6 separate regions of the Homo sapiens genome follow, and all the other regions are reported to be linked to region 1. The links are microRNA targets in miRTarBase. Many come from high-throughput screens and were not tested one by one. Region 1 holds a microRNA gene; each other region holds the end of a gene's coding sequence.
Evidence for each region. Region 1 holds the annotated microRNA hsa-miR-7156-3p (CUGCAGCCACUUGGGGAACUGGU, at 2,563-2,585, opposite strand). A microRNA usually pairs through its seed, bases 2 to 8, with sites in the 3' UTR of a target mRNA and lowers its output. Matches are read on the target gene's strand: a 7mer-m8 pairs with bases 2 to 8, a 7mer-A1 pairs with bases 2 to 7 and ends in A, and an 8mer does both.

Region 2: the mRNA of ARL14EP is a reported target of hsa-miR-7156-3p. The part of its 3' UTR that is shown has no 7-base or 8-base seed match.
Region 3: the mRNA of DST is a reported target of hsa-miR-7156-3p. The part of its 3' UTR that is shown has no 7-base or 8-base seed match.
Region 4: miRTarBase lists TMEM109 as a target of hsa-miR-7156-3p. Seed matches in the 3' UTR shown: 7mer-m8 at 3,855-3,861.
Region 5: miRTarBase lists OPHN1 as a target of hsa-miR-7156-3p. The part of its 3' UTR that is shown has no 7-base or 8-base seed match.
Region 6: the mRNA of CAB39 is a reported target of hsa-miR-7156-3p. Seed matches in the 3' UTR shown: 7mer-A1 at 2,534-2,540 and 7mer-m8 at 2,723-2,729.

The regions. Positions count from the first base shown.
Region 1 is chr1:77,058,765-77,062,764 of GRCh38, reverse strand. It overlaps MIR7156 (microRNA 7156), which reads right to left and starts at 2,622; the gene lies at 2,563-2,622. All of the region lies in intron 4 of ST6GALNAC5 (ST6 N-acetylgalactosaminide alpha-2,6-sialyltransferase 5), which reads right to left.
Region 2 is chr11:30,335,095-30,340,659 of GRCh38, forward strand. It overlaps ARL14EP (ARF like GTPase 14 effector protein), which reads left to right. Exons shown (of 4, transcript NM_152316.3): 4 at 1,473-3,129. The coding sequence ends at 1,701. Among named protein-coding and RNA genes, the nearest start is that of ARL14EP, 15 kb to the left of the region's middle.
Region 3 is chr6:56,453,988-56,459,448 of GRCh38, reverse strand. DST (dystonin) reads left to right here. Exons shown (of 104, transcript NM_001374736.1): 104 at 182-1,453. The coding sequence ends at 444. Among named protein-coding and RNA genes, the nearest start is that of COL21A1, 210 kb to the right of the region's middle.
Region 4 is chr11:60,921,049-60,926,613 of GRCh38, reverse strand. It overlaps TMEM109 (transmembrane protein 109), which reads right to left. Exons shown (of 4, transcript NM_024092.3): 4 at 3,171-4,840. The coding sequence ends at 4,449. It overlaps TMEM132A (transmembrane protein 132A), which reads right to left and starts at 2,154. Exons shown (of 11, transcript NM_178031.3): 1 at 1,881-2,154. The coding sequence starts at 1,980. It overlaps LOC124902676 (a long non-coding RNA gene), which reads left to right and starts at 1,217. Exons shown (of 2, transcript XR_007062688.1): 1 at 1,217-1,395. RefSeq lists silencers at 1,509-1,578, 1,619-1,838, 1,899-2,258.
Region 5 is chrX:68,044,444-68,050,008 of GRCh38, reverse strand. It overlaps OPHN1 (oligophrenin 1), which reads left to right. Exons shown (of 25, transcript NM_002547.3): 24 at 1,552-1,593; 25 at 2,846-5,565. The coding sequence ends at 1,585. Among named protein-coding and RNA genes, the nearest start is that of NXTAR, 260 kb to the right of the region's middle.
Region 6 is chr2:230,817,495-230,823,059 of GRCh38, forward strand. CAB39 (calcium binding protein 39) reads left to right here. Exons shown (of 9, transcript NM_016289.4): 8 at 260-403; 9 at 1,022-3,581. The coding sequence ends at 1,210. Among named protein-coding and RNA genes, the nearest start is that of ITM2C, 45 kb to the right of the region's middle.

The DNA of each region.
Region 1 (4,000 bases):
AGATTGAAAATGAGCTGCAGAACATTCAGTCTCCTCAGATTTAGACCCTACATATTAATAAGTCACAACAATAGTATTGTTTTCACTCTTCTTACAGTCTATTTACCATAAGCAGCTGCAGAGATATTACCAAAACAAAATATGTCATTCCCATTCCCCACTCCACTAAGCTTCCAGAGGCTTCCAGTTATACAGAGAGCATGGCTGCTGGGATGCATTATGATGTGGCTCCCCTTCTAAGTCTTCTCCTAATCCACCCAGCCTTGTGGATTCCCAGTATGTTCCCACCATACTGGCCTTTCTGGTCAACTCTACAAAGCTCATCCCTACTTCAGGGCCTTTGCACTTGATGGTGGTCACTTGCCTGGAATACCCTCTCTGAGTTCACTCCTCACCTTTGGGTGTCAGCTCAAGTAATATCCTTCTCTGAGAGGCCTTACCTGACACTTGCTCCCCTCACTTCATCTCACTTGAATTCATTTTCTTTATAGCATCAATTGCTGTCTGGAATTGTTGTTGCTGTTTACTTGTTTATTGGGTGTTCATGAGGGCAGTGTTTTGTCTTATTCCTGGAACAGTCCCTGGTAGGTGCTTAATAAATAATTTTAAAAATTATGTTGTTGAAAGAAATTTATATGGAATTAGCAGCTAAATAGCAAACTTCTAAATTTATATGGAATTAGCAGCTAAACGCAAATTTCTTCTCTGAGTTTGGAAAGTTGATGATCTTAGTTTGATCCTATGGGAGAAAAAGGAAGACAGCAAACAAGAGGCCACGATTTTTCTTTTGATGCTTCAGAGGGCCTATGTACTCAAAGTCTACAGTCTTTTAGTCCAGAAACTCTACATCCTCAGTCCTTGTTTGGTGGCCTGAGAGTCTCCGAGTGTTTTTCTGCCTCTATATCTCTGTCTCAGCCTCAAACAGGAAGTACTGGCTCATTTCTTCAAGATGGTGTGCATAGGATTAACATGTGGGGGTGGTAGGTGCCCTTGTTTGAGGGTTAATAAATATTTACGCACTAAAGAGTCTTGGTCTCAGACTGGTTTCTAAAACAGGCCAGTCTAGCCCACCTCTTCTGTCTTTTGAAGAATGAATGGTAAGATTAGTCAAGGTTTCTTGGCAGACAAACTTTCCTAATTTGAGCTATGCTCAGCAACTGGCCTTGTTGCAGAGACTAAGAAGAGAAAAGGCCCAGGCTTCCCAGCATCTTGCAAATCATCTTTCAGAGCCTGATGCCCTAGGGTTCCCACTTTGGTCACCTGGGCTCTCCTCTAAGTATAATAACTTGGTTTCCCAAAGATGCTCATCCTGCCAGACACCTATTCGTTTTCTTCAGAGGAGATCAATACACAAATAGCTTTTAGAGTAGCAACTCTACTGGGGTCAGGGATCGAAGTCTTTTATCAAGAGGGGTGTCATGTTTTTGGCTCTGACAACAATAAACCTTTGAGCTGTTTCTCCTCTTAGGTTAAAGTTCTTCCAGGAAGAGAGATTTATTTTTGTCATGCAGCATCTAAACATTCCTTATCCTGGTTTGGATGCTATGCTGAATTAACACTTTGCATCTCTAATATGCCCGTCTTGGAATTATCTCTATGTTCTGTAGTGAAACACTGGATCCTTTCCTGACTAGTTATTGCAGATTTTATTAATTTACTTACCCTAGAAATTGGAATCCCATTAAAATTTTAATAGAAGGTGTTTTTAACACAAAAAATGCCTTCTAACAAAAATTCAGGTTGAAGCTGACCACTATGAAGAAAAAAATAAGAATTTGTGAGACATATCTTCCCATATTCATATGGCATAATTTGGGGGAACCATGCCAATTTCATGTTGCCATGGTATGCTTGGGGTTAAGCTTTTATTCCATCACAAATCACTTTAAATTTGATTCATCTAAGTTTTGGACATTTTATTGGCATCAATCTGACTAAAGAAACAGTTAGGTTTCTAAAAATATCATAAGATTGATTCGGCACCTAGGAGTAGGGGGCAATTGGAAACCAGCTAAAGATGCTACAGGATCAATTTCCTTATTCAGGAAGACCATCTCTTTGGAAAAAAAACTTATCTGACTCCATATTGATCCCCTAAAAAGAGAATTAAATTTACATATTTGGTTACTGTGATTTCAGAGGTGTCAAGATAAGTTATTCATGTAAGCGAGTTGTTTCCACATGTTAAAACTCTGTCCAAGCAGCAGAAAAGTGCTTTCTGGGACTCAGAAGGCAGCGCTGGAAACTGCAGGAACATCTACCCCAGCTGTGAGCCTGCCATCAGCTGGAATTCACTAAATTCACTATGCCATTTAGAAAGACACTCCTAGCTGAAGGTCATACTTCCTTGGGTCTTTTCTCAAACCTGACTTTCTAAAGACTGCCCTAGTTTTTTTCTTCCTTCACCTGACCTCAGTGAAAACTACAATAAACCTCAGCGGAATTTCCACATGAGGAAGCAGTTGTAAAAGGAATTCTGGTACTCAAGTTCCCATTGTGGGCCCCGTGAGCTGAAGGAAAGGATATGCGGGCTGGGGAGGCAGGAATGGAGATAACCACAGAACCAGTTCCCCAAGTGGCTGCAGCCTGCCATGCACACTCTGACAGCCAGTTTGAGAACAAGCCCTGCAGAATGATTTGAGGAAGAATTTTTTTTTCTTTTTAGAGGAAGCAGGTGGGGAGAGTGAGGGAACTAACATTTAGTGCGGTTGGGGAGCTTTAAGGAAATACCTATGCTCCAACCCCATAGACTCTGCTTCGGATGACTTGGAGAGGAACTCAGGCACAGGTATTTTAGAAAGTGTCTTAGGTTTGAACCAAAATAAACAATGTCAGTATTGGATTATAAAACCAATAAAATAAAATAAATATCCATGAGTCCATGATAATTTCAATAAATAACTGAATAAATAAACAAATAAATGGAGGAGAAGAAACAGCATTTCAAGACAGAAAAATTCCAATAAACAATGTAGAAAAAATGAGGGACTAGGAAACCATCCTCAGAACGTTGCAGTAATTGTCGCAGGCAAGATGCACCAAATGAACAGAACATTAATGGGGAAAAAGATGAGGAGAAATAGGCTACCTGCATAACCTGAAAGTATCTCTCCCAAGTTATTTATTAATGACAAAGGGAAAAATACTATCTTTACAATAGGTAAACCCAGCAGACATTACCTTAACCAAGTGATGAAGGTTAACATTGCCAGTAATAAGACGTATGGACATCACATACTTCCTGTTATGAGATTCTGGGAAGGGCCTATGGCTTCTGTGGTATCCTTCTCAGTAATGCATAACCTCAATCTAAGCACAGGAAAACATTAGATAAACCCCAAGTGAAGGACATTCTATGAAATACGTGACTAGTCCTCATCAAAAGTGTCATGAAATGCAGGGAAAGCCTGAGGAACGGCCATGGATTTAGAGACTGAGGACACCTGATAAATAAATGCAAAGGGAACCTGGATTCGTTCTTGGAGGACATAAAGGACATTAGTAGAGAAACTGGTAAAATCTCAATAATGCCTGTAGTTTAGCTGAGCATTATACTCATGTTAATTTCTTACTTTTGATAATTGGACCATAGGAATGCAAATCCGCATTAGGGGAAGCTGGATAAAAGTTATATGAACTCTCAGTATTATTTTTGCAACCTTTCTGTAACTCTAAAATTATTTGAAACAAAAATAAACATATTTTTAAATAATACATATCATAACAACAAAGCTTTTTAGAAGATTCAAATGGTGGAAAGCTCCTTGAGATTCTAATATGCAGCTAAGTTTGAGACAACTGATTTTGTAAGTACCTGCTCAGCTTCTGCGCTTAACTGATGTGATCTCCTTTACATCCTCATCAGCCCTCTGAGGCAAGTATTGCAGCTCCCATTTGATAGGGAGCATCTGATACCCAGGGAGACAGTCCACTGCCTGGCTTTCAGCACACAACCTGACTTATTGTCCATCCAAGCTGCTGGACTTGACTATTTCAGCTC
Region 2 (5,565 bases), not on the chromosome of region 1:
ATTCGAGTCCTCATGGATGACTTTGAGGGGTTCAGGACTTCAGTGGAGGAAGTAGTTGCAGACGTGGTGGAAATAGCAAGAGAACTAGAATTAGAAGCAGAGCCTGGAGATGTGACTGAGTTATTGCAATCTTGTGATAAAACTTGAATGGATAAGGAGTTTCTTCTTAGAGATGAGCAAAGAATGTGATTTATTAAGGTGGAATCTACTGGTGAGGATGCTGTTAACATTACTGAAATGACAAAGGACTTAGATTATATAAACTTAGTAGATAAAGCAGAGGCAGAATTTGAGAGGATGACTCCAATTTTGAACATTCTACTGTAGGTAAAATGCTATCAAACACCATCACATGCTACAGAGAAATCTTTTGTAAGAAGAGTCCACTGATGCAGCAAACTTCACTGTAGTCTTTAAGAAATTGCCACAGCTACCCTAGCCTTCAGCAACGACCTCCCTGATCAGTCAGCTGTCCTCACTGGGGCAAGATCCTCCACCAGCAAAAAAACTACAACTCATTGAAGTTTCAGATCATTGTTAGCATTTTTTAGCAATAGAGCATTTTTAAATTAAGGTACATACATTTTTTTCTTAGACATAAGGCTGTTGCACACTTAATAGGCTATAGTGTAAGCTTAACTTTTATATGCACTGGAAAAGCAAAAAAATATATATATATATATGTGTGTGTGTGTGTGTGTGTGTGACTCACTTTATTGGGGGTGGTCTGGAACCAAACCCACAATACCTCCGAAATGTGCCTGTAATTCATATATCTCCGTTCTATGGGTAGCAGCTAAAAGGTAATTACATTTTATGAGAATGCAAGGTTTTTATTTTTTACATGTCTGAAATAGAAATGCAGTTCTGTATAGTCAACATAATGAATGGGAGAACTAAATTGTTTAGAATATGACTCTAAAACAAATGTTAATATAATCATTCAGAATTTTTTTTCTAAGTTCAGTCAACATTTCTATATATGCCATGTATTCCATCTGTTAAAATTTACCATTGAGTCATTTAAATATTTTTAGGCCAAATTTACTAGAGTCCATTAAAGAACAAGAAACATTAATTGTAGTATAAAAATCTATAGAGGTGGTATACTATAATAAAAATAAAACTGTGTTGATAAAACAGTGAAGAGGTTGGTAGCTAATAAAGTGAACCACTATTAACCTGTCATTCTTTTTTGTTTGTTTAAAGTAAAGGGAAAATTATGCACTTCAAGAAGCGTATTCAGAATTTTTAGATTTGTCTCAACACTCTATAGAGTTAGGTCTCCTCTTCTCACATGGAGTTCATTTACTGCTGACGATAGAATAAGCCTTGAGCCTGATAAATTATAGATGATTTTGGCATGACCTCATCTAAAAATATTTTATCTCCTTTTTTTTTTTTACTGTATTTTCAATTAAATCAAAAATAACATATTTATGAGGTATAATTCATTGTGTTTTATTTTACAGACAAGTGATACCAGCAAAGAGTAAGGTCTATGATAGCCAGGGTCTCCTGATTTTTAGTGGGATGGACCTCTGTGACTGCCTGGATGAAGACTGCTTAGGATGTTTCTATGCTTGTCCTGCCTGTGGTTCTACCAAGTGTGGAGCTGAATGCCGCTGTGACCGCAAGTGGCTGTATGAGCAAATTGAAATTGAAGGAGGAGAAATAATTCATAATAAACATGCTGGATAATCTGCGGTACCAAACTATGGAGCCTTTAAAGGTCTTTATTTCTAAAAATCTGTTACTCTAAGATACATTTTAAGCTTGATTATCATATGACAAAGATTTTAAAACCATCTCAGTGTGCCCTAATTTTTCATCTTGGGTGCTTTAAGATTCACTATTTGATATAAATTCAGATAGGCTATTTTTCAGTAGTCAGCGTTAAGCCTGTCTGGATCAATATAAACAAGTAGGGTGTAGGCAGTCCTCTATTTGCATGTTTCCCATGGGCACAAATTTCAGTGACCTAGATTTAGTTTAAATACCAGTTTCCTTACCAGGAAGGAAAGAAAACTGGTAAGGAAACTGTTGTTGTTAAAATCTAGGTTAAAATTTTAGTTAGCACATTGTAACTGAGTAATTACATGAAGTACAAACCTCTCTGCTAGCTCTTCAGTCTACAAATCGCTATGTAAATAACAGATATGCTTCATGATTGTGACCAGTCATGTTATTTCTTTCAAATTCTTCCAGTGGTTTGTCCCTGTGCATCTGTTAATTCAGTTCACGTACAGCAGAGCATGTAGTTATGCTGTCTCTCTGTCATCTACTTGACATTCTATAGAAGTGAACACTCGAAAGAACTGGTCAACAAAGATGAAAGTGCAGCAAAGCAATGAAAAATGATAACACTGGAAGTGAAATTTTAATCAAACATAAATGAATTTGTAGAAGAAGTCACTGACCATGGGAATGTTGTTCTTGCTGCTGTGTATTCATAGGAGCTTAGTGAAGGCAAACTTACCAACACAAATAAGCAAAGTGGTTGCAATAAAGACAGATACGTCCCAGAGGAAGTGATGGTTAAAAAAAAAAAACTTTACATTAAAAGATATTTAATGTGAATATAGAAATATTTCACAACATTGAAAGCACAAGCAATAAAAGGGTGGAAGCTGACCCAAACTTAGAAGGAGTATGGCAGTTTGCCGTGAACATAAAAGATGCTTACTCAGTATGGTAAGTTACTTGCCAGAAAAAAAGGCAAGCCCTATTCAAACTACTTTGTTTTTACAATGAAATAAAACACTTTAATTCTATTTCTAATGTTTTAAATTACAGTGTACTAAATATTTTTAAACATTTTTGCATTTTTTTCTACATTTATAACTGGTCTTAAGAGTTTTTAATATTTGAGCAGAACCTTAAAGGTCATGGAACAATCATCATTTTCCCTATTGATTATTAAGATTGCAGGACCATTTTTATGGTCCCACAGTACCATGTGAAATGAGGATCGCTTGTAGCTGGGAACAGTGCTTACTTCAGGGAAAACTGATTTTGATAGAACCGACTAGTTGAGTATTAAACTGTTTTGGAAATAATTTATATATCTAAGTGCTGAAATATATTTCTCTTCTCCCCACTTATTCAAATAAAAAAGTTTTAATACTATAAACTTTTCATTGTTAGCGCCACGCAGTCCTTGTCAAGATTGTTCTGGGGGACAAAAACTTGATGTATAAAGCATGAATATACACACAGTACTTAAACAGATACCATATCTGTGGTATTAAAATTTTGGGGGTGGTTGATTAGGATTGTAAAAAGACTCCTTAGGGAGTGAGGATGGAAAAGAGAAACACTGGTTAATACAGAGTATAAATAAATTTTTTGGAAATTGATTGCATCTTGATGTTGGAATTTGCTTGGATGCTATTTGGAGGATGGGGGAATGGTATCGTCTCTTTGCTTTTATTTTATTTTTTTTTGAGACAGTCTTACTCTGTTGCCCAGGCTAGAGTGCAGTGGCTCAATCTCGGCTCGCTGCAATCTCCATCTCCTGGGTTCAAGTGATTCTCCTGCTTCAGCCTCCTGAGTAGCGGGGACTGCAGGCGCGTGCCACCACGCCCAGCTTATTTTTTTGTATTTTTAGTAGAGACGGGGTTTCACCATATTAGCCAGGATGGTCTTGATCTCCTGACCTCATGATCTGCCCTCCTTGGTCTTTGCACTTTTTTAAAGACAGCTGTCATTTTGTCTAAAAGCTTTTTGTCACATGGGACATTGCCACTAATCTGGGTTTTGGGGGGTTTTTTGCATCCTAAATACAGTCCTTCAGTTAAATCAAATGTGCTCTTAGCAATTTGAAAGATTTTGTAGCCATTAAAACTCAATTTATGCAGCCAGTTTGAATTGACCATTAGAGGGTTTGTTTGTTTTTTAATTTTTTTGCTTTTAAAATGACTGGTTTTACTTTGAGGGAATGGCATATTCAGCCTTGGAATTACATATTTTTAATAATTTTAACTGTTCACTCACCTGTTACCAGAAGTACATACAGTTAGCTTGTCAGTTCCTTGATCTGTATGATTTACCTGAACACTGGCAAAAGAATATTTCAGCTTTATTCACTTAAGTCAGATGCTAGATTACTTTCTCTAAAGTAAGGAAATACTTCATTATTGAGGACATAAACACTCCAGTTTTATCTGAACATTAGGATCATTAGATCTTAATTGTTTCTACCATCTTTTAGTTTTTCTAAGTATGACAGTGCTTAGGCTTTTCGTAGGGACAAATTAAAATCAGGTTTTTTACTTAAAATAGGAATATTTTTGATGGAATGAATGACTTTAAAATTGCCATATTGCAGCATTTTTTAGAACAGACCTGTAATTTTTCAAAGACTAATACGTTTTTCAAAGGAAAATATTCTTGAGCAATTTTGCTAATATTTGTTCATCATGCCCATTTAGGGAAGCAAACTTTTAATGAGCATACAAAATGTTTACAGAGAAAGGTGTATCTGATTTACAGTAAGCTGTAATAAAGCTATGTTTTGGAAAAATTAAATAATGAGCCCACTTACTATTTTGTAATATAAAATTACAGAAATATGGAATATAATGAAATCATCTAGAGCCTCTTTATATTGTGCATAAATATTCCAGGTGACTATAAATTATTTTAGAATTAATCTAAAAAGCAAAGTTTTATAAACAATTTCTGTTGTGTGTAGATCCTAGTAGAGAAGTTAGGTCACAAATGTTGGTCTCACACAATGTTGGTCACAAATATTAAGGTAGAAATGCATGTATATATTTGAATAAAATGTCATCTCGTGATCTTTTCCTTTTTTTTAAAATATGGAAATAGCTATTTACCTTGTAACATCATATATAGGATTCTTCTCTTTTTAAAGTATTATGTTTAGTTCTATATAACAGGCTGTTATACAACCTGACAGTCTACTCTAAAACTGCCTCCCTGGCGTGATTTCAAGCAAGTAATTTTTAGCAAGTGAATTTTGAAATATCCATATATATATATACAGTGATTCATTATTAAAAACATAATTTTAGTGAGTTCTATTATAGTCTTAACTTTTTGGAAGTAAAAGACCCCTGTGAGAAGGTGATGAAAGCTATGAACTAACTTCCCAGAAAAATATCTGCATTCATGTACTCACAAATATCGATGTTCAGAATTCCTGAACATGTATTGCAGTACCTGGGTAGTATGAAATATTCTGTAAACCATTTTACTTTTTCAGTTGAGTATGGCTAAAGTGTCGGTTGGTTTGTTAAATAGTGTTGTGGGTGGCTGTTTTCAAGAAAAACAAAACCAGAACAGCTCAGTCCTTGAGCTATGACTGCCCTGAAAAATCAGATCCCACTGGCCTCATATACCCCTTCCACCTCCAAAAGGTGATTACACATTGAGTCACAATGTAGAAAACTGATGTCTTATCTGGACTGGATTTTGGTAGAGGTTTTCTACCTCCATGATGTTTGCCCTGCTTATAGCTTAACATTCTTGTGCAAAATTCAGGACACTGCCTTAGTTTTGCTGACATCTGGTATCTTCATGAAAAAAACTGCTCTCAGC
Region 3 (5,461 bases), not on the chromosome of region 1:
ACTTAGAGTAAGCCTGCATACCCTTGTGTAATAGAGAAAGGCTGTGAATCCACAACTGTTTTCTGAGTGCCTACTACACACCAGGAAAAAAAGTTAAGATTAAAGGTGGCATCGGGTTTCAAAAATTAGTTGCAGATGGACCCAATAATAAGGGTGAGCTGTCTCTACCTTCTTTCCTCAGATTCCAAGAAGACTCCCAGCCGACCAGGAAGTCGAGCTGGAAGCAAAGCTGGCAGCAGGGCCAGCAGCCGCCGAGGCAGTGATGCATCAGACTTTGACATTTCAGAAATCCAGTCCGTGTGCTCAGATGTGGAAACTGTCCCCCAGACACACAGACCTACACCCCGAGCAGGTTCTCGGCCATCCACAGCGAAGCCTTCAAAAATCCCCACGCCCCAGAGGAAATCACCTGCCAGCAAATTGGACAAGTCCTCAAAGAGATAGTGCAATTGGTTCTACCAAGGCCCTTCCTTGAGCATTTATTATTTAAGTTTGAACGATGTAAAATATGGTGTAGAAATTCTTGTGAAATATTGCAAGAGGCGAGTTTAAAATTCTGCAGATGGCCTTATTTGTGTATTTGTCTTTTTATTTTATCTGTATAATTTTTTTTGTCAGATATTCTGGGGTTAAAGTCACATCATATGTGAGGAGGAAAAGTTTAACATGAACTAACATTTCTGCACTGTAACGTGCCGGGCACACACTAAACTCAGTTACTGTACCTACAGGTAAGTCTACATCCTCTCTGACAGCCACAGCACTACATCAATCCCTGACGTTAGGGATACCTCATGACATTTTCCTGTTTTTATGGAAACTCTGAGAAGCTGAATGATACATGCAGGGGATATTTTTTGAGATGATTTAAATGTAAACCAAAAGATGGAAGACAAAAAGACAAACACACCCACACGCAGTCTTTGCAGTATCTGACAGAGAACTCACAGGAAGTTACTTCAAGCACTTGCCAGTACTATGATATTCAAGTACCTTGCAGCATTTCTCTGCCATTGCTTTCAATGAGGCCAGAGGCATCCTGGATATTAGACCTATTATACTGTAAGAATATAAGTATAAAGTGCGTTCATATACATGTGAGGTTTTCTTTTGCTTGAGTGGACAGTAGCACCTGTATCATTGAACTCATTTTGTATCAGAGCAATTTTGCTTGCAGAAAGCTATGAAATAAAACACGTCCCTTAACTGCATTGCTATGGAATTAATTTTTTTTCCCCAGGGAAAACTAGTGTATTTTTTTATGAGCAATATCAATTTGGAGTGACCAAAAGATACTTAAAAATGGGTTTATTTTGATTTCTCATCTGAAATAATCATGTTCTGGTATTATATCTATCTATATTTAATAAATATATACATTTTAATTTATTATGTGTACTCACATACTATAGAAAGATATTAGTATGCATTTAATAAAACATATTCACTTGAATATATGGAATACCTGATTATTTAAAGTGAACTTCTTCTATTATTTGTTTTAAATAAAGGTTATATGTATGATATATGTTTACTAAGAAACAAATAGGGTAAATTTGGGGGACATCAAAAACAGGGAGTTATAATAATGTTAACCACTCTTTCAACAAATATTTCTAATAAGTATTAGCCATGCACCAGCCATTGTAAGTGACATGAAACTATAAGGTTCCTGCCCTCCCCTCTTCAAGAGGGAATCAGTTAATAAGTCACTAAAAAGCAAGGGATGTGTGGCAGGATTACAGATTTAATTAAGGTAATATAGTAGTATTCTTCTGGCCTCTGTACATTTAAAAGTCAAATTGTAAAATTTTCCTGAATATGAAAATAGTATCAGATATCCTCAGAAGGATGGCAGGTTGTAACTTTAGGTATGAGGGTCCCAACATTCTGCATAACTTTGTGGATTTGCTGTAGCAAATGTCACTGATGGTGTTCAGATTCAAGGGAACATTATTACATTTTTCTTTCTTGGCCTTTTCAGTGGAGGCCAACACTGAAGAGCCTGGAGTTTCTATTGGCATAAATTAGGTGCTATTTTTAAGCAATAGTAATCCCTTCTTTGTCCAGGCATGGGTCTCAGGTGGGAGCCCTTGATGAGAAGGGGAATTCTAACCTATGAGATCACATGCTATTTAGTTCATGCATTTGATTATTAACATGTCATCTTAGAAGGCAATTGAAATTGTTTTTATTCCTTTAGTGCTTTGCATATGATCACATTTCCACTTCAAAGACAAATTTAAGGCAATGATTTTTATCTCAGTCTGTTTCTATGCTACCCCTCCGAAAGAGCTAGGGGTTTTTCTTTTTAAGTAGTAAAATAAGCTTTTTGGAAAAGATAAGTGGTTTAAAATAAGAGAAGTCTTAAGGAACTGCTCCCAGTTGTCAGTATTTGCCCCAGGTGAGCTTTTCAAACTTTGACATGATGCCTACTCATTTCTTTCCTCTTGTGCTAATAGTCCTAGAGCCTCAGGCTGACTTCTCTAGTGTCCTGTAAGTTTCAGTTAATGTAACAGAAACCTCTTCCCCACCCTACACACATTCCTTCTCTTTTCTTTTTCTCTTTCTTTTTTTCGTTTTTTTTTTTTTTTTTTTCTTTAAAAAAAAGAACACTACAGTGAATCTCAACTCTAAAAATCTTAATTGGAAAAATTGAATCTTAAGCATTAGGGAAGTTGAATCGTGGACTTTTTTTGTTTTAAAAATCAAAGCTCCTAATTCGCATGTACTGCTACCTTCTTTGGAAATAGTGGACTGTCCTCTTTGACATCCGTGCAGAAGTAGATGGGCCTGGCCAAGTCTCGGATATAGGTGGGAGAGTTTGGGAAGTGCCCCCATGGCTGTCCGGGATTGACCTGTAAAATGAAAAGGAGGCGGAGGAGAAGAAAGGATCTTGTTTCCTTTTTTGGATCATTTTAAAAGTTGCTTTCCGTATTTGTAGTAAGGGAAATTGTAATGAGATACAGTTATCTATTCCTTTTTGACAAGGTGCTTTGAAATGTGTGTTTTTATTGTTAAATGGTGATCTGATACCACCAAACAGTACATTTGCCATGCCTGCTTGTCTGTGTATGTCTGATGCCACTGCCACTGGGGTCCCACAAAGAAGGCAAAGACACTTGAGCTTTGTCTTTTAGTATAATACTTTAGTAACTAAGGTCCTTTCAGGCATGTTGAGGATGGACTTGTCAGTTACCAAAATCTGCTTGGAAGTCAGTAGAGTAAAGGACAAGGTGTTTGGGCAGGAAATAGTTTGTATGACTATTTGAAATATCTGACTTAACCTACCAAACTCTGCAACTTTGGTTGATTTTATGTAACTCTTAACGTCTATGTAGATGTTGAGTGTCTAGCTAGGGTGAAGTATAACAAAAATAGGTTTCTTTTTTTTCTTGCTACTACTTCTCATGTGCTAAGTTAAGAATATATGTAAAGCAAAGTGTGTTAAGGGAATAATATTAGTTTACCCACATTTTTATCATACTTCATTATTGCAAATTAAAAGACTTTAACAGAGAAGAAAATAAAATAGAGGTTAAGAAGTTTTCAACAATTTCCCCCAAATAAAAATAAAACATTCTTTTAGAATGTTACTAATCTTAAAGTACAGTTATTTTTGCCCCAGCGCAAAGACTAGGAAATGTAGTTCCCACAGCCTTAGACTCCAACTTCTATGCCAATGGCCTCTAGACTTCTTGGTTGGCATCTTCTTATCAGTAAAAGTTTTTCTGTGCAAACACCCCCATATATATATATATTAATTTATCCCAAGATATTATTTGCACATATTTTATCATTAGCTAATTTCTCAGGGCTCACTCTAATCTTAAAATTTATCCTAACAACATTGGTGTACATCCTTAGTTCAAATAGTCTTCATAATTATTTTGGCCAAGTTTTTGCCAAATCAGATGAGACTCTTTCTGGTTTAACTCCTGGTGTGGCTGAGTTTTGCCAAATCAGATGAGATTCTCTCTGGTTTAACGCCTGATATTTAACTCCTTTGTTCTAGGAGAAGCGTTGTCTCTGCCATTTTTCTTATTGCTTGTTTGTTTCTTGCATTATAAACATCTTAAATCCACGGTTCTGTTGCAGGGATCTGTTTAAGCCTTTTTTTTTTTTGTAAAGATTATTTAATTCAGAAGAGTTAATAAAAATCTGTACATTCACCCAACTTGACATAAATAAACTTCGGTTTGCTGCATGCTAAAAGCAACCCAAAGAGTGTGGGAACTGTTGGGACTTCCACTCTGCCCTTGGGTCACCTAAGCTACAGATCGTGAGAAGATGCAAACGATGTCGATGTCACTGGAGAGATGGTAGCAGTGTCAGTCTGTAGTAAATGTTAGTAAAGGTAATTTCCTCCTCTTTTAAGATGAAATGTAAATATAAATAGACATTTTCTTCCAACATTCTATGAAGTTACTTTACATAATCTAATTTTAGGGATCATTGTTCTATACTATTTTCTTCTTTCTGCCTCTTCTCAACCATCTTTTTCCAGAGAATGGAAGTATGCTGTAAAGTTTCTTCCTTTCTCCTCTGATACTAGTTTTGCAAGGGCATGCACACCTGTGCTAGTGGTTATATCACTGATTGCCGGTTCTCTGAAAATTCCAGTTGAGGGAGGCTGAGGGGACATACTAACATTCTTGAAGCCTCAGTTCTAGTTCCAGCCCTTGTTACCTCTCACTTGTATTACTACAACGACCATCTGTTGATTTCCTCATTTTCAATGTCTTCTCCTCTAGACATCAGCTTGGAGGAACTGGTCTTATGGGGAAGGACGTGCCTTTTGATATGAAGGACTGGAGGAAAGGGAGATTGAAATGGGAGAAGAGACATTGAGGGAGTTACCCTGCACTCTTTATTTATCTCAGTAAATTGGAAGACAGATTTTTGACTTGACCAGAGAAGGTTAGAAGTAGCCAAGGCCCTGGACTGATAGTTATCCTGGCCTCCAGTGTATGGCCTGGTTTAGGAAGAGAGGTGACAGAAAGTTCATTGATCTACAGTTGGTTTCTTCAGTCAGGCTCAACAGAGCAATGGAAGGAAGCGGGGGCTCTAGGATGGGCTTTTACCTCAGAAGCAGGTTTTAGGGTACCCAGAGGAAAGGATTTGGGAGGAAGGCACACCGTGGGTGAGTATTTGGGTCAGAGTGGTAGAAAGCTAGAACACTATGCTTGCACACACAGGAGTGTGTATATGATCAAGAGTGACTTATATTTGGGGCATTATCTAAAATTTGCAAGAATGTGAACTTCGGGAGCCTCAGCGTTTTTTTAAATATTAGTCTTAGCTGTTCCAAGTCTTCATTGATTTTTATTGTGCTTATAGCAGAATCTGCATGGAGAAAGCAATAATAGTCCCTAGAGTGAGGGAGAGAGTACAAGAGCCTGCCTTTCAGCTGCAGTTGGTTGTGCTTCAAAGCCCCAAGTAGGCTTAGCGGTATGTGTGT
Region 4 (5,565 bases), not on the chromosome of region 1:
TTGCTTGCCCTGGGGGTGGGGTGGGGACCAGGAGCCTGGGGAAGACAGTCAAAATAGTCAATCATCAGAAGGACAAAGGAGCACTAAGCCATATTGGTTTGCTCTAACTATGAGCACTAATAATAATAATTAGCATTTTGTGAATGCTATATGCAGGTGAGAATTTAAATACTGTATGTATATGAACTCTTTGAGTCTTTGTAATAATTCTGTGAACCAGGTTCTATTATGATGAATCCCATTTTGTGGATGTAGAAAATGAGGCCGAGAGGTTAAGGTATTTGCCTGTGGTTCCACAGCTGGAGAGTGAAGGAGCTGGGGGTTGATCCCAGGTATTAGCCACTAGACCATCCGGCGTCTCCACCTGCCACTTCTCTCTCCACTCTCCACTGCCACGGTGCACCCTGCAGGCTTCATGCCCTGGAGCGCACCTCCTCTCCTCTGCTCTGCCCGGTGGCACCTCCCTCCTCATTCAGGGCCATGAGTGAATACTGCCTCCTTCTGAAGGAAGCCCTCCTTGGTTACTCACCTTCCCACCAGTCTCCTGTCTTTTGCAACCCTGGGTGCCTCCTCTGAATTAGTAATCTTCCTATAAACAAGGGACCCTGTCTTGCTCATCCTGGAATTCCCCCAAACTAGGAAGCGCTCCCTAGAGAGGATTTCCTGGGAGCCTGGAGACCTGAATTTAAATTGATGAAACTTGGGTCAGGCATTAACATTTTGAAGCCTGTTTCCTCACTTGTAAAAGGGGCAGGAGCATTAGGTGGCACTGTGGACAGGACAGGGCTGTGTAAACTGTGGAGTGCTGTCTGGAGGGAGCAGGCATTATTGCTGCTGCATAATGGATTTGACAAGGTTTTCCTCCTCTCTCTATTAGGACTCCCATGGCGTCCCTCGGGATGGGGAGCAGGTGGCTGAAAGCAACCCCACAGCTAGCTCCCTCTCAGCCCCACAGCTGGACTGTGGGTGGGGGTGGGGGAATTGGTTTCAACCTCCTTCCTGGCCCTCCCCACCAAGGAGCATATGACTGACAGGCTCTCCCTGCCCCCTGCCCCAAGCGTAACAAGTGACCACTGCTCTCTGGGGGCAGCCACTGGCTTCAGGTTCGCCTCCTACTCCATTGCCTCCATAATTACAAGATGCTCTTAGCCTGACTCCCACGGACTCCCATCACCCAGCGCTCGGCTCTCTCGGTGGGGAGGGCAGAGAATGTTTCACTGTCCCTCTGTCTTCTGTGGCATCCTTTGCCTTGCAGCCACAGCCCAGCTAGCCCAGGCCAAGGGAGTCCGACCCCCACCCCGAAGCACAGGGAAGTTGCTGCCCTTTCCCGCAGTGACAGGAATCCTCTCAAAGGTTCTGGAAGGCAAGGATGCGGCCATCCCTGGAGACGCCAAGGTCAGGGAGCCCTGGGGGAAGGGGGAGGGAGGGCTTGCGTCTGTTGCAGGTCCCAGGCAAAGGGGCTGCTTTCCACTCCCGAGGGGGGTGGGTTGGTGGCGGCGGAAGGAGGCTAGGAGGGTGCAGCGCTACAGACCACAGTGAGGGAGTGGGGATGACGCTAGTGCGCCCGGGACCGGGGCCGCCGGGTTCGATGCCCGGGCTGAGGGGTCCCTCGCAGAAGGTGCGGGACGGGGAAGCCCCTGCGCCGGGCTGCCCCGGGTCAGGAAGGAGTTGCCGGGTCGTGCAAGGTGAAGGAAGCCTTAGGGGCGAGTGGCTGGGGGCAGGTTCCCGAGGGCAAGAACTCTCCGACCTTCAGGGCGCTGCGGGGCGACCCCGCTCAGGGTTCAGTCCGAGAACCCAAAGGTTGGTGGCTCCCGGGCATCACTCGCTCCCACTCGGCCGGGCCCGGCCGCCCCTCGCCCCGGCCCTCCCCTCCCGCTGACCTCTCACGACGTCCAGGGCGAGGGCCACCAGGAGGCAGAGCCAGGGGCCGTAGGGCCCCCGAGGGGCCGCTGTTGTGCGACCGGCCATCCGCGCGCACATCCTTCCCACAGAAGGCGGGGACGAGGCGGGCGGCTCAGGTGGCCCCAGTCCCGCACGGCATCTCCCGCACCCGCTCCGCGCCGTCCCCACCTGGCCCGCTGGGTCCCGGCCGCCGCCGCCGCCGCCGCCGCCCGCCCCGCGGCTGCAATTCCCAGACAATGGAGCGGGAGCAGTGGGGTGGGAGGGAGCGAATCGCAGCACATGGGCTGCCCCCTCCGCCCCGCCGGGTCCTAGTGCCCTACGGATCCCCAATCCCTGCGCGCTCAGGCGACCGAGGTCGGGAAGAGGGCCACGTCCCTGGAAGCAACAGAGGACGGCCGCCTCTGCCAGGAGGGACTCGGTGAGTTCTGTGTGGCTCCCTCACGGAAGCTTCTGATCAGGGAAGAAAAAGCCACTTTCTCTGCCTCACCCACCCCCACAAGCAGCTCACTTGTGAAGGCATCTGACACCTGAGTCAGAACCAGAATTCAGGGACACATGGGACGGGAGCTGCAGGGACAGGAAAGGAGGGAGGGGGTCAAACGGGGCCAGATGCCAACCACCTGAGCCTGCCCTGACAGAGCTAGGCCACCGCCGTGGAGGAAGGGCTCTAGGTGCAGGCAGCTCTAGTCTCTTGACCAGCTCCACCTGGGCAGCGTCCTGCAGCGCTTAGGAGGGTTGAGGGTTGCCCAACACTCCCGAGGGAAGGCCAGCCTCAAGGGTCCTGACCCAGTGTTGCCTACCAGGCAGTTTGGGGAGAGGCCCAGAGCAGGGGCCCCAGCTGCACACTCTCATGCCCTGGGCAGCTTACAAAGAAAAAATTATGTCTGAGGCCCTCCGCAAAATTGGTCCAGCCTGTGGGCCGACTGGAAACCTTGGCACAGGAAAGTCCTCAGGTGGGTGGTGAAGGGGAGGGCAGGCAAGTCTTCTCCAGGCTGCCCACCCACCTCAGCACACTGCAGGGAAGGGGTGACCCCTCTGCCCAGCAAGCACACGCATTTCCAGCAGTGCCAGTCGTTCCTACGTTTTGTAATGGGGGCATGCTTTCCTAATTCCTTGTGCTCCTGGAGGGAAGGGTACCTGGTACCAGCCTGCCTTTTCAGCTCTCCCCTCTGCCAGCTTCACACTGCCCCCACAGGGAGAAATTGGGAGGCGGAGCTGCACTACAGAAATGGGTTTAGCAGTAGAGGAGACATGGAAGCAATCCAGACTTGGAGTAAATACATTTTATTCAGAACAAGATAATAAAATAGCGTGCACTTTATTTAAAACCAACCAAGCACTGATAAAAAATATATATCACTGCAGCTGTGATTCCACATCAAACCTGAACAGTAAGAATTGGGCATTTATTCTTCACATCATGTGCCAAGCCTGGCAGAGAAGGACATCCACCTCCACTAGAGCCTCAAAGGAAAAGTGGCCCCTAACCACCAAGACAGGGTACCCTGGTGGAGAGGGGCAGCTGGCAGCTCACCCTGCTCTCTGCAGACCACGTGAAGGGAAAGGAGCTGCCTGTGTTCCTCCCGGGCTGCCGGGGTGGGCACTGGTCAGCAACTCCTTCTCGGTTTCAGGTTGTGGAGCGATGGGGAGAGAAGTGCATGCAGTTGTGCAGACAAGGAGGCGGGTCCTCCCTCCTCTTTCAGGGTCTCTGAAACCCCCACAGGGCATATAATGCCCAGCAAGGTCCCACTTGCAGGCACATGCCTACAAAGCAGCAGCCATCTTTTGCTTTGGCTGATGGGGAATCAAGATTCTGAGAGTGACTGCTCTTTTCTTGACACAAAGCAGCCACAGAACACTTTCCTACATACAGTATGGCAGCAGGCAAGCAGAAGGCCCTGCTGGCTCGGATTAAGGCACTTGAAAGAGACACAAGGTACATCCTCCTCCCCTGCAGCCCCCACAGGCCTCAGGGGACCCTGTTTCCCCACCCTTTATCCTCAGGTCCCCTTACCCCTGCCCCTCCCTACTGCTGGGCAATGAGGAGGACAGGAGCGTGCCTTAAAGGACCATGGTTTGGTGGGAGTACAGGGTAGGAGGATGAGGAAAACAAGAAGGGAGCTGGAGATTTGGCCAAGGAGCAACTTCAGAAGGACAGGAGAGCACGAGCATTAGGAGGAAGCCAAGGCAGCAGCAGAGGGAAGCCAGTTAAGTCATGAGAGACCAACGGCAGTGATGTTTGCTGGCGCAGATGCAGAAGCCAGAGGGAGGCCCCTCCAACCTTCCCTGGTGAGGCAGGCTGGGAGCAGAGAAAGGGTTAAGAGAGCCAACCCCAGACAGAGAACCTCAGAAGACAGGGCCGCAAGGACAGGCAGGGGGAATGGTCTTTCTCTGTTTCTCTTGGCTAGTGGGGCTGCGGCAAGGATCAATGTTCTGAAGGTTCAGAGACAGGGCAAGAAAAGGGCAGGGGGCTGGCAGGAGGGCTGCATGGCCCCGAAGCAGCTCAGCTCTTTGGTATGACACTGGCGGTGTGTGGGGCATCCGGCTCACTCCTCCTCCACACTGCGGGCCCCCTTGGCCGCTCGCCTCTGGCGCCAGCGCAGCTCCTCCACCTGGCGTTCCAGCCCTCGCACCTTGGCCTCGAGTTGGGCCCCAGAGGCTCGGGAGCCAGTGAGCCGGCTCAGCAGGGCGTAGAGGATCAGCAAGGCCAGGAGTAGCAGGGCCCGGGTGGAAGGGTCAGGCACCGACCTCATCAGGGCCACGAAGCCGGCCAGGAAGATGACAAGCTTCAGGCCCCACAGGATCCGCCCCAGCAAGGCCAAGACCAAGCCGAGGAGCAGAGACAGCAGCCAGTAGACGACCAGGGCCCCTGCTCCCCACAGCAGGAAGGTCTGGACCTGGCCAGGGCTGAGCTTCAGGCCCTGGGCGAGGTAATCACCTGGAAGCCAAGAGAGTCACAGAGTCAGCCAACCTGGAGAAGTGGTGAGGGGAGAGCGGGGCAAGAGCTAAAAGGGTGGGAGGTGCTAGGCACATTGCAAAGGAATAAGCCGTTCTCGCAGACTCAGAGTGATATGGGTTGGAATCTCAGCTCTGTTTCTTGCTGGCTGTGAGGCCTGGAGTAGATTACTTGCTTCTGTTGAGCTGCAGTTTCATTTACTAAACGGGAACAATTCTACTGCCTCCCTGTACTGTGGCTGGCAATTAAATGAGATACTACAGCTCAGCACGATGCCTGATAGGAAGTGAACAACTGGCACGTGGTGGCGGAAGTTCTTTTTTAGGGGGTCTGGGTGGGACAGGGTTTTGCTCCATCGCCGAGGCTGGAGTGCAGTGACGTGATCCCGGCTCACTGCAACCTCTACCTCCTGGGCTCAAGCGATCCTCCCACCTCAGCTCCCAAGTAGCTGGGACAACAGACACACGCCACCATGCTTGGCTAATTTTTTATAGAGACGAGGTCTCATTATATTGCCCAGGCTGGTCTCAAACTTCTGGCCTCAAGTGACCCTCCTGCCTTGACCTCCCAAAGTGCTGGGATTACAGGCGGGAGCCACCACACCTGGCCATGGTAGTTCTTGGCTTGCTCTTTGGCCATGTCTCTGCAGAATCCTGGGAAGGGTTAAGCAGCTTGGGGAAAAGGCTAGACCCTGACAAAGATGAACT
Region 5 (5,565 bases), not on the chromosome of region 1:
CCATTTGTATACCTGACTACGGCCTAGCGTTTGAATGACATCACCCCCTTATTCATTTCCCTTACACAATTTAAACATAAATAACTAAGAAGAAAATGAGTAGTGGCTCATCAAGAACATAAAGGAGGTGAGAACATTTCAAAGAGGCCCGACAGCTTATGGTTTCAGAAGTTATTAGTGTTCCACTTTGGCTAGAATGTGGGAGTGAAAAGAGGGAAACTTAGCTGGGGGTGAGACCAGAAAGATGGATTGGAGCCAGATCGTGAAGGCATTGTATAACATACTAAGGTGCTTGGTCTTTATACTGCAGTCCATATGCGGATGAGTCATAGAAAGGGGGGAAGAATTTCAAGAATGACAGTCACATTCTGAGCTGACCAAGTTGTAAAAAGATCACTTTGGTAGTGGGAAAGATAGATGGGAGAGTAAAGACTGGAGACCAGTTAAGGAGACTAATTGTCCTGGCAAGAGTTGGGGAAGCCCTGGCCTATGGCATTCCCAGTGGGAATGGAACAGAAGGGACAGATTTGAGAAAGACTCAATAAGACCTTGCTACATTTTCAAACATGGAACATTGATGAACCGAGAAAGAGAAAAGTCTAACTTGGGCACTTAAGTAGATGGTACAATAATTAATCATGGAGAAGCAGGTTTTATGGGAAAGATGCTGAGCTCAATTTTGGACACAGTGATTTTGAAGACACAGTTGTTAAATTTATACAAATTTTTTAAAGACACTTTGAGACTTAGGTAGAGATAGATGTTCAGTGGGTAACTGCAACTTAGGCTAGCAGTTGGAGCTGGATGTATGTATACATAGATTTGGGGGTTAGAAATATGAGTATAGCCACTATATAAGTCTGGGGAGTGGGGCTAGTCACATATGCTACAATGTGAATAGTAGCCTGTTGTGGGGAGGTCCCTAGTATTTGGTGGCAATTGAAGCCATGGATGGGAATAAGATCCTCCAGGGAGTAAGTGTAAACAGACTGGAGAGAAGAGAAAAACAGAAGGTTGAGGACATAGCCCTGGGGACCAGCTGTTGTACGTAATGCTCTGGCCACACTAGAGTGGGTTTCATTTGCCAAGATTTTCTCCTCCCCAAGCTGTCCCCAGACATGGGTAATTTAGAACTAATCCAAGCACATCAAGAGGCTGGACAAGGTTGGTTTGGTCTTCTAGGCAAAGGAGGATTCATCTTTCACATGGTACTTGTCTGTGTCCTCACCCTTATCCCTGTTAGAGATCATCACAGAATGTAGTTCGTGGTCTGCAGCCAGCTTCCCTGGGTTCTCCAAGCTTCACATAGTCTGGTACTCAGAGAATTGTTCTGGCACCTGAAAGATGTCTTCACATCTCTTTAAGCCTGCCAGAGAAGGAGCCCCAACTATAAGCATGGAGCTAAATGTTTTGAAACATCTGGGCTGAATCACTTCTCCATTTTTCAAATGGCCTCTTTAGCACTGGCCTAGAAGTGTCCCCCATTCCCCCAATTTACCTTTCCAGTCCTGATTTCTAGAATCTTAGTGAAACGTCTTTCTTTATCCACAGTTCTCAAGGCAGACTTCCTGGAGATGAAAGTTGAGGCTACAGGTATGCAGTCCCCATCCCTGATTACAAAATCTTGTTCCACATAAGCCTTCATTACGGGATCTGATATTTTGAGGACTGGAATAACATGTAGATCAGAAGGGTGGGAACTCACTTCTACGCCTCAGTTCATTACTCTATCACTGCCTGACCCTTAAATTTAGTGACTTTCAATTCCAAGGTTTTGTGTGATTTTAAGTAACCTTCCTCTTTCATTTCTTTTTCTCCTAGCCAAACTATGGCACGCTTTTACAGATTGCCTTTGAATCAAATTTATTAAGAATCCTAGGCTGTGACATTTTGGGAAAGTACATTTACTTCTCTGAGCCTCAGTTTCCCAGTTTCTAAAATGAGAAGGTTGGAACCTTCTAACTCTGACACCTCTCGGGCCTTTAAGGAAACCAGGAACATGCTTTCTGATATTATAACAGATGCCAAGAGGCTACCTTAGTGTCTGTAGATGGATTCATTCCTGCAGACCAAATCATTATTTCAGTCTTACCCACCTGAACCTTCATTCTTAGTCCTTTATGTTTGTCCAATGCAAAGCACTTTCACATTCATTATTTCATTTGATGCATATCACATGCCAGGAGAAGGGAGGATAATATGTGTTCTAACTCAACAAATAAAGGAACTGAAGTTCAGAGGGGATAAGTGACTTGCAAAGGTCACAGGAGACTCAGAGGTCAGGGAAATTCCTTTCTCTATCATAGGAGTTCTGATTGTTTGACTATCAGATTGCTGGCATGATGTGACCTGATAACACACATAAATGAGATCCAAGTATCTGGAGCTTGGCTTTTCATGTGCTCCCTAACCTTCTTTTTTTCCCTGTCACTGCCAGTCCTCAGAGGTCCGTGGGTAGATAAGCTTCTCCTTATCAGCCCCTATGGAGGTGAAGTCCCTGTTAAAAGGAAGTTTATAGTTATTGTATGACCATAAAGGCAGTGGGCATGATGTGGGAAGAAATCTCAGAGGTTCTAGTATCAGGCTTCTATTTCTCCATGTAGATTTTGGGGAGTTTGAGTTGAGGTCAAAGGCACAAAGTGTCCAGCCCTGGTCATAGCACCATCTTAGGCCTGTTTCATGAGATTTGACTTGTAAGAGCCTTTGCCCAGCAATCCGCTGTTGCTCAGAAGATGAGCTACCAATTATAGGCTTAGCTACCTACCAAGAGAAGCCCCACTGATCAGTGGCTGTTAAGTACTTGACCAGTCCTCGCTAATTCCCTACTCTCTTCTTTCTCTTTCAGGTTTTAAAAGCCTTGGCCTCAGAGGACCCTTTCCAGGTTCTGAAAGAGTCTTTCTTCTTCAAACCTTTGTGTGCGGAGTCATTTTGTGTTGAAGAGCAGCTCCTTCCTAGCCTTGCACTTTCAGACTCTCTCTGGGAGGCCATAAAATAAGGAGCATATGTCCTAGACAGGTGTTTATATCTCCTTTGTATTCTGTCTTCATCCCCTCAGAAGGTCTGTTTTGAGTTCCTATAACACTGTGAAGAGCTGGACTCCCTCAAGCCAGACTCTGCCAAAACCAAGATATCCACTTACCTGAGTTGAAGAGGGGAGCTCAGTTTTCAACTCTTCCCTGAACTTCCTGCTTCCTCAGAGGGCCATTGAACTCTGAGAGATTTGGGGCTAAAGACTGATCTCAGGGGTCTTACCTTGAACTGAAGGCCACTTGAGTTGGGGCCATTGCTTACCTTGGTTGGAAGGGAATAGAAATGTTTGCTGAACATTGGAGAATCTCAACATGTCTCCTACTGAGGATATGGACACTGGTGCCATGTCAGCGCTCTGGTGCTGCAGTATGTTGCCAAGAGCCCGTCTGCTCCTGCGAGGCTATGAGTGGGATGAGTGATGCCCCCACAGCACCTCCATGTGGACTTAGGAAGGTGGCCTTCCTGCTGTTACATGCAGCCACTTAGGACAAATCTGCAAAGCATGTTTTGCATGTAAAAGCCTAGGTCTATTTGGATTATTCTTTCTCCTTTTTTTTGACAGCTTCCTGTCAAGCAATCAAGAAACAAACAAAAGCTGAACACATTTCTTTTTAAAAAAAGGAGACTGTGTTTGGTCCTGTAGGAGTTCTATTTTGGGGTCAAATGCTAGAAAAATTGTTAAGGTGGATTGAGGCCAGGCAGCTGTCACTGCTGCTTCATGTTTGCCTTCTGCACATAAACTCTTTTATCTCCTGAAAAAAGCAGTTCTTAACCCAGTGTCCATGGACTCAGAAACTCCATGATGCCCCTGAGATGGTATGCACAATTCCATGACAATATGCCCTTTCTGGGGAGATAGTCCATAATGTTCTGCTAAATTTCAAATGGGCTCGTGACCCAAAAAAGTCAAGAACCACAGCACTTGAGTAAAATACTCTTTTTACAATCCATATAAGCCCTTGATTGGAAGGGCTTTTCAAAATCATTTAGTCTAACAACTGCCCAGTTTCCAGTCGGGGGAACTGAGGCAGAGCAAGGTAGTGATCACACCAGTACAAGATCTCAGGTCCCAGGCTCCTATGCAAGTTTTTTTTCCCCATTATATCACACTTATCTAGCAAGGGACCTTGTGGTTTGTGGCTTTAGTGGCCATCATTTCTGGGGGTTGGCTTTTACCCTTTTTCTTGAATATTTGCCACCAAGTGAAAAATGTTAGGACATAAACCCTTGCCAGGTCCCTTTCATTTGCTATCTCTATTATTGGAAAGGACCTAAAAATTGGTGTAATGGGGCAGAAATCTGAGGAATGGACATTTCTAATTCCTGTTTGTTGAAGGGAAGTTGCTGGAAAGAGCATCAGTACTTGTTTCTATGCAGATGCCTGGGCCGTAGCTTGTCTGTAGCGTCTGTATAATTATAATGTTGCCCAGTGTGAGGGAAAGAGCTTTCCTACTTGCACTCTTCTACCAAGGCCCTGTTAGTGCACTGATTATAGTACTGACAGATAAACCTAGATAAAGAGATAGAGAGTGAGTACATGCACACTCATGTGCAAACCCACTCAGAGATGCATTTGGAACAGTGCTACTGAAAGGCAGTAGTCATTTTCAAGACTGAATTCCAAACATGGTTTATTGGTGAGTTAGGAACATGTAAGGCCAAGTACACTGAGAGCCTTTTTGAAAGTAATTGAGTGGAAACTTGATGCCATTCTAAATCAAGGCATATCCAGGTGGCCCGGTTGAACTCACTCCACTGTACCCAGTCTCAAAGGCCAGGTTGCTAAGAAACCAGGAGTAAAAGAGTCAAGTGACCATCATTTCACCTGCTGCTTGCCCCCAATAGTAGTCTCTGTGAGGCCTTACTGACCTCACCTAGGAAGTGATTTTTGAGCCCTTGTTTCAGGGCTGTGGCCTCCCTGCTCTATCCTGAATAAAGCAGACAGGTGTGCAGATTTTGGCCATGAAAGCATGGCTAATAGGGCCACAGTCCCTTTAAAGAAACATGGTTTGACTCTGGTTTTCTTGGGGGAAAATACCACAATCACCGATGCAAACATTGGAAGATTATTGAGAGCCCTAGAAAGCTGCTGTGATCCCAGTAGAAAATATGTCCCAGAAATGTCATGAGATTGCTGTGTGTTGCCTGGGACACAGATCAAGGGCCTATCTTGGAGAGCTGGGGACCAGCAGTCTGCCTGGAGGCCAGGGAGCAGTGGCTGAGTAGCTCTGCCTTTGCTCTGGTCTATACCTTAAGAATGCCAAAGAATGAATTTCAACGCCTGCCTTTGGCACTCTGACTTAAAGTGCAAAAAGCTTCTGTGGCGAGGCATGCTATCATGGAATGAGACTGGCTTGCCCTAGGCTTAATGGATGGGCAGTCATTTTGCAGAGGCTATGGGAAGAGGGTGATAATAGAAGAGTGGCAGCTATAGGAAATTATCAACATACCTTGGCCAGCAAGTTAGAGAATCTGGCAATGGATGAACTGAAAGTGATGAACTGGCAGGGATAACAAAGAACCTAACATTTATTA
Region 6 (5,565 bases), not on the chromosome of region 1:
GGGGGCATCTTGAACATCCTCTGCAGAGAGAAGCGTCAGGCCTCCCGTAGACTTCATCTCTCAGGGAAAGGGAGGAAGGCATTCAGGTGGCAGAGAGAAGGCCCTTCGTAGCTTTTAGGTTGTAATTCAGTTCAGTTCTTCGGTCTTTTGAGTGCCTACTAATACTCTATACTTGATGATTATAAAATAAATTGTTTTTTTAAACTTTGATTTTTCTTTAAGTTTTAATAACAAGGTAATTGTTTAAATGTCTTCTCAGCTTCTCGGTGAACTACTACTAGATAGACACAACTTCACAATTATGACAAAATACATCAGTAAACCTGAGAACCTCAAATTAATGATGAACCTGCTGCGAGACAAAAGTCGCAACATCCAGTTTGAGGCCTTTCACGTTTTTAAGGTAGAGTACTAGAAGCATCAGTGATACTGTCCACTGGAATTGTTCGTCGTCTTTCATTCGCAAATAACGGAAATTATTAGCCTCACTCTGGTAATCCAGGTGACTTAATTAAATTCAGTCACTTTTCATATTTGTGTGCTATGACTTTTAAACAGAAAGGTAGACCTGGAAACGGGTTACTGTTTGGATCTGGGAACGAGAAGGTTTGTTCATAGAAGAGTGTCATTTATCTTTGGCCTAGAAGATTAGTAACTGCAAAACAAAAGCATTTCTTAATGCTTTCTGTGGAGGTTTCATTCTTAAAATCCCATCTGACCTCTTGTGCTGAGAAATAATTTCTGCCCATTTTATTCTAAAATCAAAGTCTGTATTTAATACTAAACACTGTGTTGCAGGGCTGGCAGAATGAGTTTATCAGTCGTATTTGTGTTAAAACATGTAATTATTATTTTTTTTTCCAAATTGTAAAATAACGCCTTCTAAAGCAAAACCTAATGACCCTGACTTCAGCGCCATCCCAGGAGAGCACAGCTCTGCTTTTCTGCACTGTGGCCGCAGCTCAGGTGTGGCTGCGTTTTGTCCTTTCTCTGTGCCTCATGTGCGTTTCTCTCCACGCAGGTGTTTGTAGCCAATCCTAACAAGACGCAGCCCATCCTAGACATCCTCCTCAAGAACCAGGCCAAACTCATAGAGTTCCTCAGCAAGTTTCAGAACGACAGGACGGAGGATGAGCAGTTTAACGACGAGAAGACCTATTTAGTTAAACAGATCAGGGATTTGAAGAGACCAGCTCAGCAAGAAGCTTAATCTCCAATAAACATCTATGTTAAATCCAAATTCAGCATTTGCTGTTAGCTATTCAGCATCAGGCACTCTTATTGATTCATGAGGAACATTACTGCTAATCTGCTGTTAAGTGAACGGTTTTTCATTTTACCCTTTTGTTTTTCAGTCCAGGTTGGAGATCGTAGCTGCTGCTGCTTGCACACTAGGGCACATGTGGGCTTTCTCTTGATCTTTGTGTCATTTCAGAATTCAAAGACTGTGCTACGGGAGTTCTGAACATGGCTGGGTTCATGAAGGCAAATGTATGGATGAGAGTGTGGTTTAGGAAAGAGGGCACTGATATCAGATTAGACCTATGTGTTTGCACCCATCTTTGTTGGCGATCTGAGTGCAGTGTGGCAAGTGCACACCTGGCATCCCTGCGTCAGATCGCGCACCTTCAGGTCGCGCACCTTCGCTGAAGGAAGATGACGCAGAGCTTTATCTGAAATCAGAGGGGAGCTATCCAAAATGGGAGTTTGGGGGCAGCTAAAGTTGACATGCGAATAAATTGATACTGAAACTTAGCAACTTCTTAAAAGTGTAAAGAAGCCTCATAAGATCATAAGGAAAATGTATATATGCTTTTCACAGCTTTCTAGAATTTTTTGACATTTGATTTTCTTGAGACTTGTAAACCTGGATATGTTGAAGGGTATTTGTTAATTTTACTTTTCAAAGATACTTTAAAACAGTAGAGCTAGCAATGACACCTTGCATTTCATTTCAACACTGCTTCAAGGTTTCTTTTGTATATAATTCTTAGAATGCTCATTTCTTTTAAATGGTTTAATTTGTACAGCAGAGGAATGTTATTGTAGTAGTATGTAACTATTACCTAATACTGAGTTTTTGCAAAAAACAATGAATGCTCATATGTAATTGAAATACTTCAGATCACATGAAAATGCTGATTTAACATTTAAGTATCACAGCATTAAAAGAAAAAGAAAGTAAACCAGTCCTTTGTATTCAGTTACCTAATGGGGTGCCATCAATAAGCTGCGATACAGCCCTGGAGCTCAGTCAGCCACACCTTCCTGCATCCTATTGGCCTTATTCATTTTAAATGAGTTAATGAATCTGCCAGATCTGTGAATGATAGAGATTATGCTAAATTAATGCTGATTCTTTGTGTGTGTGGGAAATCTCTGTAGAGCACCTTTTCTTTCTTAGACTAAGTAACCCAGTACAATAGTTGTGAACTGAATAATTAAAACTTTGGCTTCTCTTAGGAAAAGACGACTTCCTAGTCATAGGTGTCCTATGGGGAAATTTATTTTTTTTAATGTCCTGTTCCTTAATGCTGCAAATTATCAGTATTTATAAAGTAACTGATTTTGCACCACTTTTTTGTTACTGTGACCACGGCAGAACAATGTCTTCTAGACTATATCTATGTAAAGTTATTAGAATGGTATCTGTTCATTTTAGTGATATGAAGATCACAACTAACAACTGACAAATCAGAGTTTGCCAGTTCAAATTCAGCATGGCTGCAGCTGATTAAGAAATTGATATGATTATTCTTTGCTAGCCTCTCTTACTAATGGAATTATATACTGGCCAGTAAAATGGGCCTCCCAATTGCTGTTTCAGCAGGTTTTAAACCTTCAGGAACACCAGTTAGGAAAATAGCTCCAGAAAATATAGATATATTTTATTTTTATTAAAATGGCAGTCTACATCATAATTGGCATTTCTCAAGACTGTCTTTACCAGAATCTGTGTGAAATAAGGCAATCTAGTCTCCTTGAAAAAAAAATCTCTTGGATGTTTAGGAAGGAAGACTTGGCCGTGATGTGGTGTCCTGGCTTTGTGGTGTAGTGCTGTGTGTATGGAGTTAGTGTAAAAACATGGATTACACCAAGTGGAAGAAACGTCTTCTTGCCAAGCTCATTCTTAGAACTTACACATCTAGAACAGCTTCCACTTTGGCAGTGAGGTCGTAGCCTTTTAGGTGGAAGAAGTGAGGGTGCAGCGTGTCAGACACAACATTCATGTTACTCTTACATTGGAATCTGAAGGTAGTTCAGACTTCGTGGGTTTTGTTTTTAAGCAAAACAATGTGAAAACATTTAAGTTTGAAATGTTGCATTTGAAGTTATGATCATTTAATATATTCATATTACCAAGACTATTATACTGGAAGTGGTTTTTGTGTTATAAAGGTTTAATTTTACATAAGGCAGTTACTTAATGTGATTTTTAACCCTTAAAAAAGTGGAGATGTATACATTTGTTAACAATGCCATGAAAGCATTTTCTTTCTCCTAAGGAAAAGTGAATTTCTTATCAGAATATCTGGCTGGCCCTGTAATTTAAATTAAAATAAAATTTTGGAGAAACAGCATTGTCTGTCTTTATGATGTGTTATAGACAGTTGCATTTGTGTTACTGTGAACAGCTTCATCAGGAGACACACAAGCCCGAATTTTATCACCAACTGAAAGTGGAGGGACAGTTAACACCCATTCCTGTCTGCCTTTTTCCCTGTTCAGGGGCTTCACTTCCCCCCCACCGCCCCCGTGCTCATGTTTTCCTTACCCTTCCTGAGTAAAATCACACCTTTTAATGGTACCATTTCTTAGACCCTAACGTTTGAGGAGTAGATCCTCTCTTGCGCTGTTAGCAACACCGCGAGGCTAAACTAGAACACTCGGCCCGGAGTATTCACAGGTTACTGATGTGAAATGATCATGAAGGCGAGGGGACCGTGGAAGCAGGCACAAGAACTCTGGCACCGTAAAGAATGTCCCTCGTCTGCCTTCCAGGGTGCCTCGTAATCCTTAGTTCACAGCCCTGCCCTCGACTTTAACCCCTGTCAGTAAATGAAATCTTATTCTCTGGAGTGAAGGCAAGGGACATGCTCTTGCCAAAAACACTTCATCCGAATAACAATGTCCTATTTGTTATTTCTGTCAAGTAGTTCAGTCTACTTGTACGTTGTAGTTCCCCAAAGGTGACAAGGGCCCATTAAGTCATAACTTGTGACTTGGCCACTTATAAGGATCACCAGGCTGAGGACTGGATTCACGCTTCAGCTCAAATTCCACTTCCTACCACAATCCCCCATCAAATGCCCTCCTCCCCTTGCCAAAGAAGCTCCAGAACGTTGCACTTCAGGCAGCTCAGGAGTAGTGCAGTTCTCACCCAGCCTTCCTAGTTAGGCTCCAACAAGGTCCTGATCGGGAAGTGCTCTGAGGCTGCAGTCAGTGCCCAATACCTTGTTCATGCTGGAGGTTAGAGCCACTCACGGTCATGAGAAAGCCCACCTGCCAACGTGCCAAAGTTGTCCTTTAGGGGAAGAGCGGGCAGCCCAGCACACACCGCCCTTCAGGTACTCCCGGATGTGTCAGGAATCTTCTCCCTGGCCATGGCTGTGTCCTCACTGACCATCTGGTTTCCAGAAGACATGAAGGACAGGGTAAGATTCTCCCCAGTCAGCAATCTCAGTACTGCAGAAAGACCCACTGGAGCTTTTCTCTACGAATACCATCCGCTTTCACCCGTTGACAGTCTGCTTGCGGTCAACCAGCACACCTCCGCCACCGAGCACTTTAGACCCAAGAAGTGCCTAATAAGGATCTTAAGCTTTCGAACCTCCAGGAATCCTGCCACCAGCATTCACGCTGACTGAAGAGGATGGTGGTGGTTGCACAAGGCTGTGTCACTGCACAGCTATATGAGGCCTTCATGTTGTGTGTGCCCTTACAGTGTCCTCTAAAACCTTGCTCATGTCTGAGAACTGGCAGCCAAGTGTCCGTCCCCACTGTGGCTGGAAGGTGGGGTAGGTTCCACCTGAGGGCACGTCCGCCGGGAGCTAAATCTCCAAGGACCGTGACCCCCTGGTTTCTTTTCTTTTTTTATTTTTTTATTTTTTTTTTTTGAGACGGAATCTTGCTCTGTCGCCCAGGCTGGAGTGCAGTGGCGCGATCTCGGCTCACTGCAAGCTCCACCTCGGGTTCACACCATTCTCCTACCTCAGCCCCCTGAGTAGCTGGGACTACAGGTGCCTGCTAATTTTTTGTATTTTTTAATAGAGACAGGGTTTCACCGTGTTAGCCAGGCTGGTCTCGATCTCCTGACCTCGTGATCTGCCCGCCTCGGCCTCCCAAAGTGCTGGGATTACAGGCATGAGCCACCACCCCCAGCCAGACCCCCTGGTTTCTATGCAGAAGATTTCATCCTTTGCAATTTGTTAAATTTTTATTATTTTTTCTAGGTAGCACTTCAGTAGTAAGACAGACCCCAGAGATTTCTGGAAAAGAGTGACATTTTTTCAACATTCTGCACAAGATTGACAGGTTTTACAGATGAGCTTTAGCTCACAAGAG